Linked DNA regions of Homo sapiens. The protein of the gene in region 2 interacts with the protein of the main gene of each other region in a pairwise test. Each region holds a gene or a part of one and is shown on either strand. Other genes may lie near its edges.

Evidence for each region.
Region 1: the proteins of ATPAF2 (region 2) and IKZF3 interact in binary tests that used the Homo sapiens proteins (3 or more experiments, as listed by UniProt).
Region 3: the proteins of ATPAF2 (region 2) and PRDM14 interact in binary tests that used the Homo sapiens proteins (3 or more experiments, as listed by UniProt).

The regions. Positions count from the first base shown.
Region 1 is NC_000017.11:39,763,311-39,770,349, forward strand, and holds part of IKZF3 (zinc finger protein Aiolos), read right to left. Parts: intron 3,184-7,039; coding exon 2,480-3,183; 3' UTR 1-2,479. UniProt on the Homo sapiens protein: Transcription factor that plays an important role in the regulation of lymphocyte differentiation. Plays an essential role in regulation of B-cell differentiation, proliferation and maturation to an effector state.
Region 2 is NC_000017.11:18,022,146-18,029,184, forward strand, and holds part of ATPAF2 (ATP synthase mitochondrial F1 complex assembly factor 2), read right to left. Parts: intron 6,515-7,039; coding exon 6,470-6,514; intron 6,233-6,469; coding exon 6,087-6,232; intron 4,272-6,086; coding exon 4,174-4,271; intron 2,560-4,173; coding exon 2,479-2,559; intron 1-2,478. UniProt on the Homo sapiens protein: Plays a role in the assembly of the F1 component of the mitochondrial ATP synthase (ATPase).
Region 3 is NC_000008.11:70,051,149-70,054,289, forward strand, and holds the end of PRDM14 (PR domain zinc finger protein 14), read right to left. Parts: intron 1,157-3,141; coding exon 929-1,156; 3' UTR 503-928; downstream 1-502. UniProt on the Homo sapiens protein: Transcription factor that has both positive and negative roles on transcription. Required for the maintenance of embryonic stem cell identity and the reacquisition of pluripotency in somatic cells.

The sequences.
Region 1 (7,039 bases), about 22 Mb from region 2:
ACGAGTTGAGTTGGAGCCGAATGCATAAGCCCCTTAGAAATAAAACACTAATCTACCAGGAATTTGGGATTCTTGGCTCTGGTAGAAATGTTACAAATTAAGCTGACTCTTAATTTGTAAATAGGCTCCATGAAGTTGTCCCTGGAAGCAGAATTTATTTTCCCTAACATAATTTCTTAAAAAGTAAAAAAAAAAAGAAGGCTTTGGCAAACAGCTGCATGTGCCAATTTGTGTGTATGCTTTGTGGCAAGATCAAAATACCTTTCTGTTTTTTGTTCCTCTCCACCACCTTCTTCACATTCACAACTCAGTGGTTAAAGGAAAAACTTAACACACCATTTTCATACCAAAGGAATGTGAAACATGTATTCATATAAATACTCTTCTGCTTAATATCCATACATTAGGAGGTTTAAAAAATACCTTGTGGTTACTGCATAATCACATATGAATTAAAGCTAGAAGGGACCTAAGAGAACATTGAAATCTAATTCCTATTTTATGGATGAGGAAACTGAGTTTTTTTTGTTTTTGTTTGTTTGTTTTTGTTTTGTTTTGTTTGAGACAGGGTCTCACTCTGTCGCCCAGACTGGAGTGCAGTAGTGTGATCTCCACTCACCGCAACCTCAACCTCCCAGGCTTAAGCGATTTTTCTGCCTCAGCCTCCGGAGTAGCTGGGATTACAGGCATGTGCCACTACTGCCCAGCTAATTTTTGTATTTTTAGTAGAGACAGGGTTTCACCATGTGGGTCAGGCTGGTCTCGAACTCCTGACCTCAAATGATGCGCCTGCCTCGGCTTCCCAAAGTGTTGGGATTACAGGTGTGAGCCACCGAGCCTGGCCGGAAACTGAGTTTTAAGAGTTAAATAAGGCTGGGTGTGGTGGCTCACACCTGTAATCCCAGCACTTTAGGAGGCTGAGGCGGGCTGATTGCTTGAGCCCAGGAGTTCAAGACCAGCATGGGCAACATAGTGAGACCCCTATCTCTACAAAAAGAACAAAATGTAGCCAGACATGGTGGTGTGCACTTGTTGTCCCAGTACTCAAGAGGCTGAGGTGGGAGGATCACCTGAGCCTGGGGAGGTCGAGGCTGCACTGAGCCATGATTGCACCACTGCACTCCAGCCTGGGCAACAGAGTGAGATCCTGTCTCAAAAAAAAAAAAAAAAAAAAAGTTAAACGATTTCTCAAAGTCACATAGCTAATTAGCCAGCATTTTGTGACCTCCTATTCCAGTGCTAATTTTACCATGATAACAGCACTCCTCCTGATAGTATGTACATATTATGAGTGACAAGGATGACTTATACATCTGCAGAACCGTGATCAGACTTTCAGGAATTTTCATGGAATACAGCAGTTCCATTTAAATGGGAAAAAAAGGGCCGAAGCCTGCCTGATCAAGGAGAACCTCTCAATAGAGGTGTCCCTCCTCACCCCATTCCGGAGCTCAACTCCGATCTAAACACACATGCCATCTATCTCCAATTCCTCTCCTGTGGGGAGGGGGAGGCTGAGCCATACTTTTTGGACTTTTTTTGTGGAAAATATCATTGGCAAATTTGCTTTGGGTCTGTATCACCAATTCTCCATGAACTCTTTCAAGAAGTTTTAGGTAGCTGTTTTTTGTTTGTTTGTTTTCTGTTGGTGCTGCCAAACAATTTCCCCCTTTATACCCTTGCTCTGCCAACCTTGACCAAAGGAAAGCGATGTCATCATCCACAGTGGATAAATTTCTGGAGTTTCGATGATGGTCTATATTTAAAACCATGAGTTCTTCTGGCATAGATTTTCTTCTATAGACAACTGGTTTAGCCCAAAGCAGCTCAGCTTTTCACTGGAGATGGGAAGGTAAAGGACAGAAGCAGAAGTGCCATCAGATGACATTTTTTAAAAATGTTGTGATAGGAAATGGATCTGATGCTTGGAGAATGGGGTCTTCAGTTACTCGTAACAGATACTTATTTTATGGCTGTTCTTTTACTTACTCTTAGACTGTCATTTAGATTAGGGAGATTAGATCTTAACCCTTCAGCCTGTGAAGGGCAGAAGGGTGAGGCTTCCCAGCAAGGTCAGCTGGTCAGCTCTTCCTCTTTGTGGATTTGCATGTATGACTGAAAGGCTTTTCCACGTGTGGTTGATATATCTCAGAAAGAATGTTTCATATAGCACATCTCCGGGACCACTCATTCCACTGCTGTAGAAGATAATGACCAAATACCTTTTTGGCTTTTAAATTCCATAAAATTCAAGTCCCTGATGGGAAAACAAAGGTTTCACAAAAGTAATAATATGCTAGACCTGCGAATAATTTCTGAAGGAAGACAGTGTTTCCCTGGCTACCCCTGTGAACACAGCTAAAAATGGTATGAAAAGAAGTTTGGAACTGAGTATGTTTTGAGAGCAATCTGTTAGGCGAGGTCATTGGTTTTTAGAAACGATGCTGAATACATAGGAGCAATCCCTGAGACCAGATATTCACTTCAGCAGGGCTCTGTGTTCTCCTCTGGCTATGTGAGACGAGAACTCATACCGATCATGGCTTCGATATCCACACATGTTACACTCGAAAGGGTCACGGAAGCCGTGGCAGCCCATGTGAATCGTGAACATCACATAGTCCAGGAAGAGGACGCGGCAGTGGTCACACCGATACACATCCATCACCTCCCCTTCCTTGTTGATCACTTTGACGGAGTCTCTTGGGCAGATGGGCGGGGGCTTGAGGAGTTCGTAAGAGCGGGGAACCTCCTTCAGAAGTGGCATCCCATTGCGGGCCCGAGACAGGACCATGTGATTTTGCTGATAGATGTGATTCTGGCGTTCTTCATGGTTGCTGTCAGTGTCCGTGGAGTCGTGGCCACTATTGTTGGGAGAGAGGCCTCTCTCAGAAGGCACGCTCTTCTCTGGAAGGTGGATGCTTTTCTTTTCCAGCTCTTGAGGGGCACCGTTTGACATCTCAGCCCGGGTGAGGGCTATGGGATACATGCTGCTGATAACTGGAACCATCTCCGAGGTGGGAGCAGGCGGTGTCTGGACCAAGGGGCGCAGGGCTTCGGCGCCAAGATAGCTGATGGCGTTATTGATGGCTTGGTCCATCATGCGGGTCTGTATGAGCTCACTCTCTTTCTCATACATGTAACTTGAATTATAGTTGACATCAAAGCAGTGGCGCTTCTCACCTGGAACAAGTGACAGAAAGGGTTACAAAGGGAACACTGCCAAGGCAGAGAGTTTGTAAATATTTTCTAGAGACCTCAAAAAGGGAGGAGAGTTAAGTTGCCTGCTGCTCAAGAAGACCAAGCCTGGCAGAATGGTTTCCCATGGTGCTGTCTCAGGGGACACTGGTCGGCAGCAACGTGTTTGGATGGTTAAAATAAAGCCAGCAGGCAGAAGAGAGGGGCAGAGATGTGGTTCAGTTGAGGCCACATGGTAAGGTATGCCCACTGTGCATGTTAGAGGAGAGCCCTCAAGAAAGGAGGGAAAGAAGCAGGACACTAGGATGGGGCTAGAGGGACAAGGGAGCCACCAGCCCACAGGAGCCTGGGACTTCTGCTATAGTTCATGATCTCTTAAGACACAGTCGGCTCCCAACTCTTATTTTGCTTTTGCTTGTTATTTTCTGCTTGCAATATTAGGTAGCCAGGGGGACAGAAGTGCTGCAAAGAGTGGGGACACTCGGTGCCTCACCTCGGCAGCTTTTTAAATAGCTACAGAGATAGAGAAAATAGCCCCCCAGACTCCAACTGGCTACTCCCCAAACTCACCCGTCCTGGCTGACTGAGACTGAAGTGAAAGAGCTTCAAATGTAGAAAGTTTGAGAAAAGTTTTCTTGAGAAGAGATCATGGTCTTTGTCCCTTTCCTAACGTGTGTTTCTCTTCCTTTGCTTGGCAAGTGTATCTCTGATACACATGTGATCATTAGGGCCTATCTCACACTTAACTGAAAAAATATACTTGTGGTCACCCTCTCCTACTTCTCATGTCAAACTGCTGAGAAGTTTTGAAAACAGAGTTTAGCCACCTTCAGAGTGTGTGGGTGTTGTGTGTTAGAAAACAGAGGCTCTCTGGTCACAGGGAAGGCAGGGATGGGGACTGCAGTGAGGGCAGATGTGCTCAGTGGTGAGTGGTGGGGAGAGGGGAGAGAAAGCGAGGAAGTGGAGCCGAGTGCTGGAGGTGAGGCTGAGGTCACTGTTGAGCCTCTCCATTCTGTCAGCTTGGATCCTGGAGGGATTTGCTAAACCATATCCTTCTATAATGTTTCCTAGTCATGTTGAGATTCCAAAATTTGTCACTGCCCTACAGTAAAGGGTTCAGCAATGAAAATAAAGAAGAAGAAGAAAAAATGCCATGAGAAAACAAAAGGATTGGAAGAACCAGTTCCTGTTCTTGAGGTGTCTCCAACCTAGTGGATGAGAAATAAGACCTATATATATATAGAACTCGAGAAAAAGTATAAGTTAAAAGTTGGCCGGGCGCGGTGGCTCAGGCCTGTAATCCTAGCACTTTGGGAGGCTGAGGAGGGAGGATCACTTGAGCCCAGGAGTTCGAGACCAGCCCGGGCAACATGGAGGAACCTTGTCTCTACAAAAAAATACAAAAATTAGCCAGGCATCTGTAGTCCCAGCTACTCAGGAGGCTGAGGTGGGAGGATCACCTGAGCCTGGGAGGCAGAGATTGTAGTGAGCTGAGATGGCACCACTGCACTCCAGCCTGGGTGGCAGAGTAAGACCTTGTCTCAAAAAAAAAAGTTGTAAAAGGACTGCTTTGCTCTATGGAGGTCTTTGCTTTTATTCTAAATGCCCACATTTGAGGCATTTAGGCAGGGAAGTAACGTGTTCTTTAAAAAGAATAATAAGGTAACATACAGGCATCGGTGAGACAATTTGGTATAAATTGTATATTTAGGCATTAAGGGAATGCAGAAACTTCAGAAGTACTTGGGGAAGGGAAAGCATTCTTGGAAAATCTAAATTTTGAGAAGGGTCTTGAACTGGAAGAATTTAGATTTTCAGAGAAGCGGGAGAGGACATCCTAGTTGAGGGGGAGTGCAGGAATGAAGGCAGAGAGGTGGGACTACACGGGACGTGTGCAGAAAGCGAGTCTGGCTGAAACGCGATCAAGAAGTATGAAATACAGTATTTCTCAGGCTTCACTCTTCCTTCACATTCTGCAATATCCACACACCAGGGCAGTGTGGTGGTTGAGAGAATAAACTCTGGTGTCAGATGGGCTGGGTTTGATGCTGGCTCCATTGGTCACCAGTTTTGTGACCTTGGGCAAGTCACTTAACCTATGTTCCGTGTCCTCATGTAAAGTGAAGATAATTGTATGTACCTCACAGGGTCACTGGAAAGCACTTAGAACAGGGCCTGCCACATGGAAAACACTTGGTAAATGCTTGGGTTTTTTTCCTCTGTTTGATTTGGTTCACATTTTCTTTCTTTTTTTCTTTTTCTAAAATAAATGTGGTTTTTAAGGAAACTTTATATCACTAACATAAACGGAAAACCAGAATCACTTTCCACAAGTAGAAGGTAACTATGAAAAATAAAGACAATGAAACAGAGCATTTCATTAAATTTTGATCGGATACTACTGTGAGTACTTGGAGACTAAGATCCCTTCCCCCTTTGTTAAAAACAGAGATTACCAAGTGTGAGATTAGTGTTAAAGACAACTGGCATCAAATTAAGTCTAAATTTTTCTCCTTAGTATGATCCAGGAGACTGAAAGAGAACTGGAAAGAAAATAATTATCCTGCTGTGTGGACCCAGGTTTTTAAATGCTCCATGTGCTTGCTGGCAATTTGCATCCTACATTTGGGGAAACACTGAAAAAAGATAATGCATGGTAGGACCGAATGGTGGGCATTCCGAATGGCCCACTGTAGGGTGTGAATCCGAACCAAGAGCCAAGGCTACCTGCCCTTGAGAAAGACAGGTTTGTGGTTAACGTAACAGCAATGTGTAAGGCAGACCAGAACAGTGAGAAATTGGAGCCAGAAGAACCAGCTAAAAGATCTATTCCCATGAGATGAATTTGTCTTTGCATCCCCACAAGCAGCTGACCTTAAGGCCAACCTGATAGTTTCCAGAGAAATACCTGAGAGAGAAAAAAAATATGCAAACGAAAATACCCTGTCTTGGAAACTCAATGAGAAGCAACAGCAGAGTAGACCTTGGCCAAAGTAATCAATGTTTTTTATTTTCAGTTTCCAGATTGGATATATCTTTGGTCAAGGCCATCTGGAAGACTGAGAACATGAGAGCCAGCTAAGGTCACAGACATTCATTCCCTAGAATGTGACACAGAAATGATGAACTTCGGTTTCTTGGCCTTTTTAAGGTTATTGGTTATTTTCCACTGTGGCCACCTCTATTCATCTCCCTAAATACCAGGGGTCCTTGAGAAACTTTTTCTCTTTTCACCCAACAGAGAGGCTCCAGAAGGTTTCTGGGTGGGGTAGGCACATCACAAACTCTGATTTTATCCTTTCTCCTAAGAGTTTGCTTTACTTAACAAGGCCTACAATTTCACAATCTATACCACCTGCAGCATATGTCAGAAAACAGCTGAGTGCTAAAATTGTAAAAGGCAAAACATTAAGAGGAAGATAAACCCCTGGATGAGTGGAAATATGTGACTGAATTCTGTAGTTAACACAGACCATTGTTCATTGTTAAGGAGATGGGGCAGCCTCAGATGTTCACGTGCATGCAACTTGCAATCATCAGATCCCCTCGTCTCTGAGTTACGGTAACTTGAGCAGTGCAGATGATTATCAGTCACCTGTAGACACGATGACTCAATGTGTATGAAACCCAGAAAGGGTAAACTACAGTAATTGAAAAGCCAACAGCTCACGTTTCTTTAGTAACACACTCATAAAAAAGGTTAGTCAAACCACAAAAGTGTAACTGCTTCCAAACCTGCACGGAGCATCTGGTCCAGCTTCTAGTCAAAATCACACCACGCCTTTGAATGATTCATGATACCAGCTTCAGGCTGAATTAGAGGTCTTCTTCCAACAAAAAT
Region 2 (7,039 bases):
TTCACCTGGAATCTCCATCAAAAGGCCATCTGCCTTTTACATCTCTTTAAAGTTTTTCACATTTGAGGACATATAAAAGTTAAAAACAATATTTAAAATGGTTTTCCTTAAAATAATGTTTATGTCATATATCATGGAGGTTTTCTTTTTTATTGAGACAGGGTCTCGCTCTGTCACTCAAGCTGGAGTGCGCTGGCATGATCTTGACTCACTGCAGCCTTGACCTCCTAGGCTCAAGCGATCCTCCCACCTCAGTCTCCCAAGTAGCTGGGACTACAGGCATGTGCCACCACACCTAGCTAATTTTTTTTGTAGAGACAGAGTTTCACCATGTTGCTCGAGCTGGTCTCAAACGCCTGGACTCACGCGATCTGCCAACCTCAGCCTCCCAAAGTGTTGGGATTACAGCCATGAGCCACCATGACCAGTCAGCAGTCATTTTTTCAAACTTTTTTTTTTTTTTTTTTTTTTGAGATGAAGTCTTTCTTGCTTTCTACCCCAGGCTGAAGTGCAGTGGCATGATCTCGGCTCACTGCGACCTCCGCCTCCTGACCTCTGCGCCTGGCTGAGAAGATACATTTTCAAGAATAATCATAACTAAATAAAACAGAAAAACACAATGGGGGATAAAAATAATTTTTGTAATTTTCTTCCATATATCACTGATTTTTTTCTGTTGCTTAAAAAAATCCGGCTGGGGCCGGGCGCGGTGGCTCATGCCTGTAATCCCAGCACTTTGGGAGGCCGAGGCGGGCGGATCACGAGGTCAGGAGATTGAGACCATCCTGGCTAACACGGTGAGACGCCGTCTCTACTAAAAATACAAAAAAAATTAGCCGGGTGTAGATGGTGCATGCCTGTAGTCCCAGCTACTTGGGAGGCTGAGGCAGGAAAATGGCATAAAACCTGGGAGGCGGAGCTTGCAGTGAGCTGAGATCACGCCACTGCACTCCAGCCTGGGTGACAGAGCGAGACTCCTTTCAAAAAAAAAAAAAAAAAAATCCTGCTGGGTGCAGTGGCTCACACCTATAATCCCAGCACTTCAGGAGAATGAGGTGGGCAATCACTTGAGGTCAGGAGTTCGAGACCAGCCTGGCCAACATGGTGAAACCCCATCTCTACTAAAAACACAAAAATTAGCTGGGCGTGGTGGGCGCCTGTAATCCCAGCTACTTGAGAGGCTGAGGCACGAGAATCGTTTAAACCCAAGAGGTGGAGGTTACAGTGAGCCAAGATCGCATCACTGCACTCCAGCCTGGGCGACAGAGCGAGACTCCATCTCAAGAAAGAAAAAATAAAAAATCCTTGCTGAAATTCCTAATAGTACAAATGGACTGTAAGAAATGGCTAAGTTTTTCTATAAACTCTTAAGGATGAGGTATTTCCTGCCACAAGAATCTGATGATTTTATACTATAGCAAAGATCTCTAGGCACCTAAATTATTATTACATTTCATTAGATTCTGAAATGACACTGTTTTGTCACATTCCCACATAGTATTGTAGTCTGGTCTTTAGAGCACTGCCTTTGCCTTCTCTTTTAAGACCCAAGGACACCTGCCACATTGTGAGCATCGGGCAGCATGTGGCAAATCAGTGAACTGATTGGTAACATCACTTTTGTGGAAAACTGCTATACCAAGAAATGTGCCTTGCAAGCTTAGAAAATACCACAGTCAAGGTAGTACCATGAAAGCCAGCCCTTCCAAATTTCCCTTGGGATCAAATGAAATTGAATTTATTTTGCCACCACATCAATAATCCATTCAACTTTGCACTCAAGAGTCTTCCTATTAAAGAAAAATATTTCATATCAATTCCTGGAAGCTACATATCCATTGGATGTTACCCGTAATTTTGCAGGAAGCTATCCAGACTTTTCTCCAAGTGCATACATATCGTATATGTTGTTCTGTTATTTTATTTAATAGTACAGCAATTGTGACAAAGATTAAAATCACTGCCAAAATTTGAACATTTACTGTGTGCTAATAAGCAGGATGCTAAGCCTTTACATGCATCAATTCATTTATTCCTCCTCAAACCCTGAGAGGTAGGGATTATTAGCCCCATTTATAGACAAGAAAATTGAAGCTCAGAGAGATCAACTCATTAGCCAAGTCACACAGCTGAGTCTTCAGCAGAGCTGGGATTCAAACCGACACTGCTGCTCTGACCCGCTGGCAGAAGGTGGCCTGGGAACTCCACTGCTTCTCCAAGGACACAGAGCTGCCCCTACACTTCATGAACCGCTACAGCAGGTGTGCTGTACCTAGTGGCTGAAATTAAATTTGAGGTGCTTTTTTCCCAGGATGACCCTATCCCTGATCATATGAGGGGAGCCAAATCCCACGAGTGCTCTGAAATCAGAAAGCTGACTAGCTAAGGGCACTAGTTTTCCAGCGTGACCCCCTGACCCCTACACTCCACCAAACGCAGGTGCCCAGTCAGTGCTTTCTGCAGGGCTGTACATCTTACCTTTTCTCAGCCCATTCGATGATTGGATCCCACTCATTCCTTTGAAGTTCCACTAATGTCTCGGGCTCCTCCACCCTGTAGCTAATTCATTGTAAAAATAACCTTCATTAATAAAAAAGTACAATTCCTTCATTCAGTGATAGAAAAGGAAAAACACAAAGGACAACAGCAAAAACTTCACCACCACCATCCCAGCCCCACAAGTCTTTTCCCCTAAAGCAGTGGTTCTCAAAGTGTGGCCCTGGCACCAGCATCGCCTGGGAACTTGTTAGAAATACACATTCTCAGGTTGCATGCCTACAGAAATCAGAACCTCTGGAGGGGGGCCCAGCAATCTGTTTTAACAAGCCCTCTAGGGGATTCTAGTGTAAGCTTGAGTTTGAGAACCACTACCCTAAATGCCCCCAAATATTTGACAGGTCCAAGCTTGCCACACTGTTACTGCCATCCTAAAGCAGATCCAATCTACTAACTGCAACCCTGGGTCCACACCCGCTTGACCCAGATGCTGAATGGGAATGCTGTGCCAGATGCTCAGTCTTTGCATCTCTACCCTCACCCCCTCCAAGAGACTGTGCCCCTGGTCACAGACCAAATAGCCTGTTTATACCTCATAAGTCCACCCACCTCCTGGCTACAGATGCAGCTGCTGGCACAGATGCCAGACCTGATGGGACCAAGCTAGAGGTCAGGCTGTGCCATTTGTTTGACCAAGAGACACAGACATGAGCCAGTTGAGAGGAGCTGAGCTGCAGGGCCTCATGGGATGGGAATCCAAGTGGGCACTATGGAAATCCACTGTCTTGTGTAAGCAAAGTGGGGAAGAGAGGTCATGAGTTATGCAGGAAAAGCTGGGGTGCTGGGAGGGGCAGATGGACAACCAGCCTTTCCTCCCTCACCTTCCTCTCACCCTAGTAGGGCACAGGGAGGAGCTCTGACATTGGATCTTCCAGCTACCTTTCCTGGTGACCCAACTGTCCTTCATTTCCTGTCAGGATCCCTGTATAGTTTTCAAGAATCCCCTTTTTGTCTGAGCTAGGTTGAATGGGTTTCTGCTCCCTGCAATCAAGTGAACCCTAATATAAATGGAGTGGGCGTTCCCACTAGCTATGGGTCACCCCCTTCGAAAGCACGCCTCCAGCCATCAGTGCTGACTTCCTGTGTCATCGTGAGATGACTCAGGATCCTAGAGCACTTGGGCTAGCAGGCACGGTGCTGCTCAATCATTTCCATTGTTTCTCAACTTTCCTTTGGCATCACTGAACAATTAGCCAAGAAACATAGACACAGAGGAGAATTCAGAACTGGAGAAGGACACTCCTAGTTATCAGCATCCATAGTGCCAAGGATGCTTTACCTGAGAAAGTGTCGGTGGGCAGAAGTTTAAGGTCACAGGCCCCCCTAGGCCTAAGGGGCCTGTGGTCACGGCACCTGCAAGAGCTGCATAACCACCCTCCCAGCCTAAGGAGCAGCTTCTGGGCTAGAGAAGAGGGGTGGCCATGTTCTGACACCATTGTAGCCCGAGGAGTCCTCCTCCTAAGGGGCTACAGAGCAGCCAAGTGCCAAAGTCAAGTGGGCCACCTTCCTTGTCCTTGCAATAAATGGAGAGGGTTTCTTCTTCCACTGATAACCATCTGGGCAAATCAGGAAAAATAGCCTCAATCCAAGGGGAATGCCCATCTAAATGTCCATTACCAGATGGTGTCGGTGTCCAGAAACTTCACGGCTGCCCGGATCAGCTGATCCTTGTTTCTCTGGGTTGGGTTGTCCAATGATGTGTTGCACAATGTGGTCTGAATCAAAGGCAAAAACCACCCTGTCACTGCCTGCGGGGCTCAGGCAAAAGCCCTGCTTTCCTGAGGACACCACATCTGACACATAGCAGACAGCACCACAGCACAGCCCTCCACCAGAGGCGTCTGCATTACCGGAGCAGCAGCACAGCTACTGAGAGTGTGCCACAACCAGGCTCCATGCCAAATGCTTTGTGTTGACGCTCACAGGACTCGAGGGAAGCTTGCAGCAGCCCCAGGATTAGTGAACCTCCCCCATGGTCACATGCCTTTTATTACCAGGCTCTAGTGTATTTAATTTAATCCTCACAACAACCTTTTGGAGTAGGTACTATTATTATGTCCATCTGGGATGTGAAAACTGAGGCCCAGACAGGTTAAGTACATTGTCAAATACAGTTAATAAGACATGTATTAGTGATGGAGCTCAAATCTGACTGGAAACCTTTACCAGCTGCCTCCCTTACACCTTAGAAAGTAGGGAAATAGCCCATGCAAATCGGGATCAAGATTATTTTTTTCGGCCAAGTGTGGTGGCTCACGCCTGTAATCTCAGCACTTTGGGAGGCTGAGGTGGGCAGATCACCTGAGGTCAGGAGTTCAAGACCAGCCTGGCCAACATGGTAAAACCCCATCTCTACTAAAAATACAAAAATTAGCCTGGCATGGTGGTGGACGTCTGTAATCCCAGCTGCTTGGGAGGCTGAGACGGGAGAATCGCTTGAACCCAGGAGGCAGAGGTTGCAGTGAGCCGAGATTATGCCATTGCACTGCAGCCTGGGCAACAGAGTTAGACTGTTTAAAAAAAAAAAAAAGATCTTTTTTTTTCCAGACTTACCTTGTCAATAATAGGCTGCTTAGGTTACCCTATTCGTTTGTAGCCCTAATCACCCTAATTTCACTAGGTTGTCAAGGACCAGGCCAACCACCTCAGCAGGCTGTGATGTTGGGAGGAGGCCCACCTGGGTTTGCAAAGGTTGAGCACAGCAGCGGCTGGGATGATAGCAGCTGACTCCTGTATTGACTGAGTGCCCAGTCAGTGCTGGGGACCATGCCAAGGGCTTTCTTGCATCATCTCATCTCATCCTGACCACAGCTCCGTGAGGTGGGTACTATTATCACTCATCTTTAATCGGTGGGGAATATGGGGCTGCGAAAGGGGTAGCAACCTGCCCAAGGTTACAGTTTAGAAGCTGCAGAGGCTGGACCTAAGAGTGTAGCTGGGCCCTTCCTTCCCCAGGCAGCCTTGGTGCCTAGGCGAGCCACTTTGGTGTGGACGAGGGGGCTGGTTCTATAGGGAGTCTTCCTCACCTCACCCATCTGCCTCCAGTGGATCTTATATTCAACTAATATTTACTGAGTACCAACTAAATTACCTGCTAGTGGCTGTCCAGACACTGATGAGTAAAACAGACATGGCTCCTGCCCTTCTGTTGCTTACCAGGCAGTGGAAGAGACAGACAATAAATGTGCAAACATAAAACAATTATAAATTGCCTAAGTGCTGACAAAACAAATGGCCAGCTGCTGTCATAGAAAATAAGAGAGCTGGGCAGTCAATGAAGGTGACATCTGTCCTGAAACCAAAGGAGAAACCAGCCATCCAGCACAGTGTTCCTAGGAGAGAGAGCTGCAAGTAGCCGGGCCAGACAAGGAAAGAGTTTAGCACGTTAGTGACTTGAGAGGAGGTGAATCCCTGGGGGCCAGACAGGCAAAGGACCAGCCCCCAGGGCCTTGTCGGAATTTGGTAAAGGGTCTACCCTACGAAGCCCTGGGTGGGTCTCAGGGTCCAGGTTCACACTGTGAACTTGTTACCAGGTGCATGGTGTAGTACTTGATGGTATCCTGCTGGGAATCCCACTCAGTAGCCACTGCAATGGCCAGGGCCTCGCTGGGGACGGTAAAGAGCTTGGCTTGGGGAGTTTTCAGCTTCCTGTGGTCCAGGTTTATCTCAAAGCCACCTTGAAAGATCAAATGAAAAACTCTCAGGGATTTGTTAAGTGGAATCAAGTGACCATTCCTATATTTAGCCACTTGAATTGGTGCAGACAAAGCCAACTCTGAGTCCCTTACAGAAATATATCTCACAAAAAGCAGGAAGGATAATCGCACCATGAAACCAGCTGAAGATGAAAAATGTTCCCAACCATTCACAAAAAAAAAAAAAAAAAGAGGCAGTCAAAATTTCAGACACTCACCTTCACCCTGTGTGATGCTGACATTCTGATAAAACCTCTTCCTTTCTGTAAGAAAGATTTTTCAAAGAGGCAGTTTAAAATAACGTTGAGACAACTCAGGAAGCGACAGGACCAGCTTGTATCATTACTGCTAATGTTGATTGATTGGCTTGATTTTCATATCCCCATTCAAGGTCTGCCCTACTCAACACGGTATAATCAACCGCTTCTGATTAAAGCTGGGGGAAGGGAACATCTGATCTCCAGGGAGAAGGGAGGAACAGAACATGCTGGTCATACCTCTGCCAGCCCCGCAGCCTGGGGACAAGTCTGATCAGGAGCATCTCGGCATGCTCTCCCACCCTCCCCACCACCAGTGCCACCTCATGCCAGCACAACGAGTTCAAACCTAAAGTCGGTGTCTGAGTGGGACAAAGCTAGAGACCCATTTCAGGCAAGACTCTGATGCCTCTAAGGAGTGAGTGGAAAGCCAGTGTGCGTGCGCAGGGTGTGCGTGTGTGATACATCGGCAGGATACAGAGCTCCCAAGGGCATTTCCCATCCCCTCTCTCCAATTAATTAACCTAATTA
Region 3 (3,141 bases), on a different chromosome or scaffold from region 2:
AATATTTATTTATTTAGTGGGGTTTTTGTTTGTTTTTGTTTCTGCCAAGTGCACAGTATGATAAGCGAATTTTTAGAGGATTTGTTCTAGGCCTGATGCAGTGGCTCACACCTATAATCCCAGCACTTTGGGAGGCTGAGGCCAGAGGATCAGTTGAGCCCAGGAGTTTGAGACCAGCCTGGGTAACATGTTGGGATCTGCCTCTCTGTATAAGAATCTTTTCTATAAAGAAATGTAACACGTGATGACCGCATTGTATAATTGGGGGCCCAAGGCAAATAGTAGAGAAAAAGCTACCTTTTTCTCAGATCATTGCAACCTCCGCCTCTGGGTTCAAGCAATTCCCCTCCCAAGTAGCTGGTATTACAGGCATGTGCCACCACACCAGGCTAATTTTTGCATTTTTAGTAGAGACGGGGTTTCACCATGTTGGCCAGCATGGTCTTGAACTCCTGACCTCAGCTGATCCGCCCATCTGGGCCTCCCAAAGTGTTGGAATAACAGGCGTGAGCCACCACACACAGCCAACTGCAGGGACTTCTATAACCCATAAAAGGAAATAGAGAGAATCCGAATCTCTTGTTTTTACATTGTCTCCACACTCTTGAGGGCTACTCATTTTTTTTGTTTTGTTTTGTTTTGAGACAGGGTCTGGTTCTGTCACCCAGGTTGAAAAGCAGTGGGGCGATCTCAGCTCACAGCAACCTCCGTCTCCTGTGCTCAAACCATCCTGCCACCTCGACCTCCTGAGTGGCTGGAACCACAGGCATGTGCCACCACCCCCAGCTGATTTTTGTATTTTTTTGGTAGAGACAGGATTTCACCATGTTGCCCAGGCTGGTCTCGAACTCCTGGACTTGAGTGATCCACCCACCTCTGCCTCCCAAAGTGCTGGGATTACAGGCGTGAGTCATTGTGCCTGGCAGGGCTAGTAGTCTTCATGAAACTTCATGTGGGAGTAGAATGTTTCTTGATCTGAGAAGATTTTCCCACAGATGCTGCATGAGCAGCCATCATCCTCCTTGTGTGAACGCCGGACATGGCTGTCATGGGCAGCATGGGATGCAAAAGATTTACCACAGTACTTGCATTTGAAGGGCTTCTCCCCGGAGTGCTGCCTGATGTGTGTGCGGAGTATGCTGGAGGCTGTGAACCTCTGCAGAGAACAGAAATACAGAACACAAGAAAAAGTCAACTTCCACGAGCTGGACAACCAATTAAACTAAGGGGTAAATTTCACTGTTGCTCATCCTTATGGACGAACCTTGGGTTTTAAGGCCATAGAGCACTCCTGGTCATCATCAGTAGCCTTAATCCGAAAGGACTCCACTGATGTGTCCTTCTGGCTAGTTTTGAGAAGCACTGGATGTTAGAACAGTGGTTCTTCAATGGCTAGATTATCTGGAGGTCCAGTTTGTAAAAAAGCAGATTGCAGGCTGGGCGCAGTGGTTCACACCTGTAATCCCAGCACTTTGGGAGGCCAAGGCAGGTGGATCACCTGAGGTCAGGAGTTCGAGACCAGCCTGGCCAACATGGTGAAACCCCATCTCTACTAAAAATACAAAAATTAGTCAGGCATGCTATCGTGCACCTTTAATCCCAGCTTCTCAGGAGGCTGAGATGGGAGAATTTCTTGAACCCAGGAGGCGGAGGTTGCAGTAAGCCGTTATTGCACCACTGTACTCCAGCCTGGGTGACAGAGTGAGACTCTGTCTCCAAAAAAAAAAAAAAAAAAAAAAAAAAAGCAGACTGCCAGCCTGGGCAACATAGCAATACCTCACCTCTACAAAAAGTAAAAAAATTACCTAGGCATGGTAGCATGTACCTGTGGTCCCAGCTATTTGGAAAGCTGAGGTGGGAGGATAACTTGAGCCAGAAGGTCAAGGCTGCAGTGAGTTATGATGGCACCACTGCACTCCAGCCTGGGTAACAGAGCAAGACCCTCTCTTTAAAAAAAAAAAAAAAAAAAAAAGCAGATTACCAACCCCACCCAAGAGAGTGTGACCCAATAAATCTGACATGAGACCCAGGAGCCTGCATTTAAACAAGCAATTCTGATGCATGTGGGTCCTAGGATCATACTTCAAGACAAACCTCATTACAGAAAGAGAAGCTAATATCGACCAGAAGCTAATATCGGCCAGTGTCTTTGCATAAGTCAGTGCCTTACTGGTTTTCTTCTTCTTCTTCTTCTTTTTAATTTAAACTTTTTGAGATGGTTTGTAGGTTTGTTTTATTTGTTTGTTTGTTTGTTTGTTTTGAGACAGAATCTCACTCCATCACCCAGGTTGGAGTGCAGTGGCACAATCTTGGCTCACTGCAACCTCCACCTCCCAGGTTCAAGCGATTCTAGTGCCTCAGCCTCCCAAGTAGCTGGAATTACAGGTGCACTATGATGCCCAGCTAATTTTTCTATTTTTAGTAGAGATGGTGTTTCTCCATGTCGGCCAGGCTGGTTTCAAACTCCTGACCTCAGGTTGATCCACCCACCTTGGCCTCTCAAAGTGCTGGGATTACAGGTGTGAGCCACCACGCCCAGCTCAGTGGTGTTTTTCTATGCCCATTATTTTCATTCTATTGACACACACTTTGGAGGTATTAGTTGCTCTAATCTGGTAGACTCAATGTTTTATTCCTTTTGAGAGGCTTAGAAGTAGCTGTAGGACAGCCTCTACTCCTTTTACGGCTTTACTGTAAAAAGCGTAAATGACTCAGTGACTGAAAACATAATCTATACCAGTGCTTTCCAACAGGACTTGCTGCAATAATGGGAATATTCATTACCCACGCTGTCCATCTTGGAAATCAATGGCCACATGGAGCCATTGAGCACTTAAAATGTGGCTAATGCAACCTAGGGAACGGAATTTTTCAACTTTACTTCGTCTTTACTAATTGAAATAGCCACATATGATTAACCGCGAACTGCACATTGGGTAGCATAGAGCTATTTTGGTGTAATATGTCTAAAGCGTGGTCAACCTATTGTTTCTATTATAGCAACCTCTAACCACATGATTCATCTCTGTTTTTACAACTCTGTATTCTGTGTAACATAGACTAGATGCCGCTTCTGCAATGCTCCTATAGAAAATTACATCAGTAGCATCCTTCACAGATTAAAGTAGTAATAATAGCAGT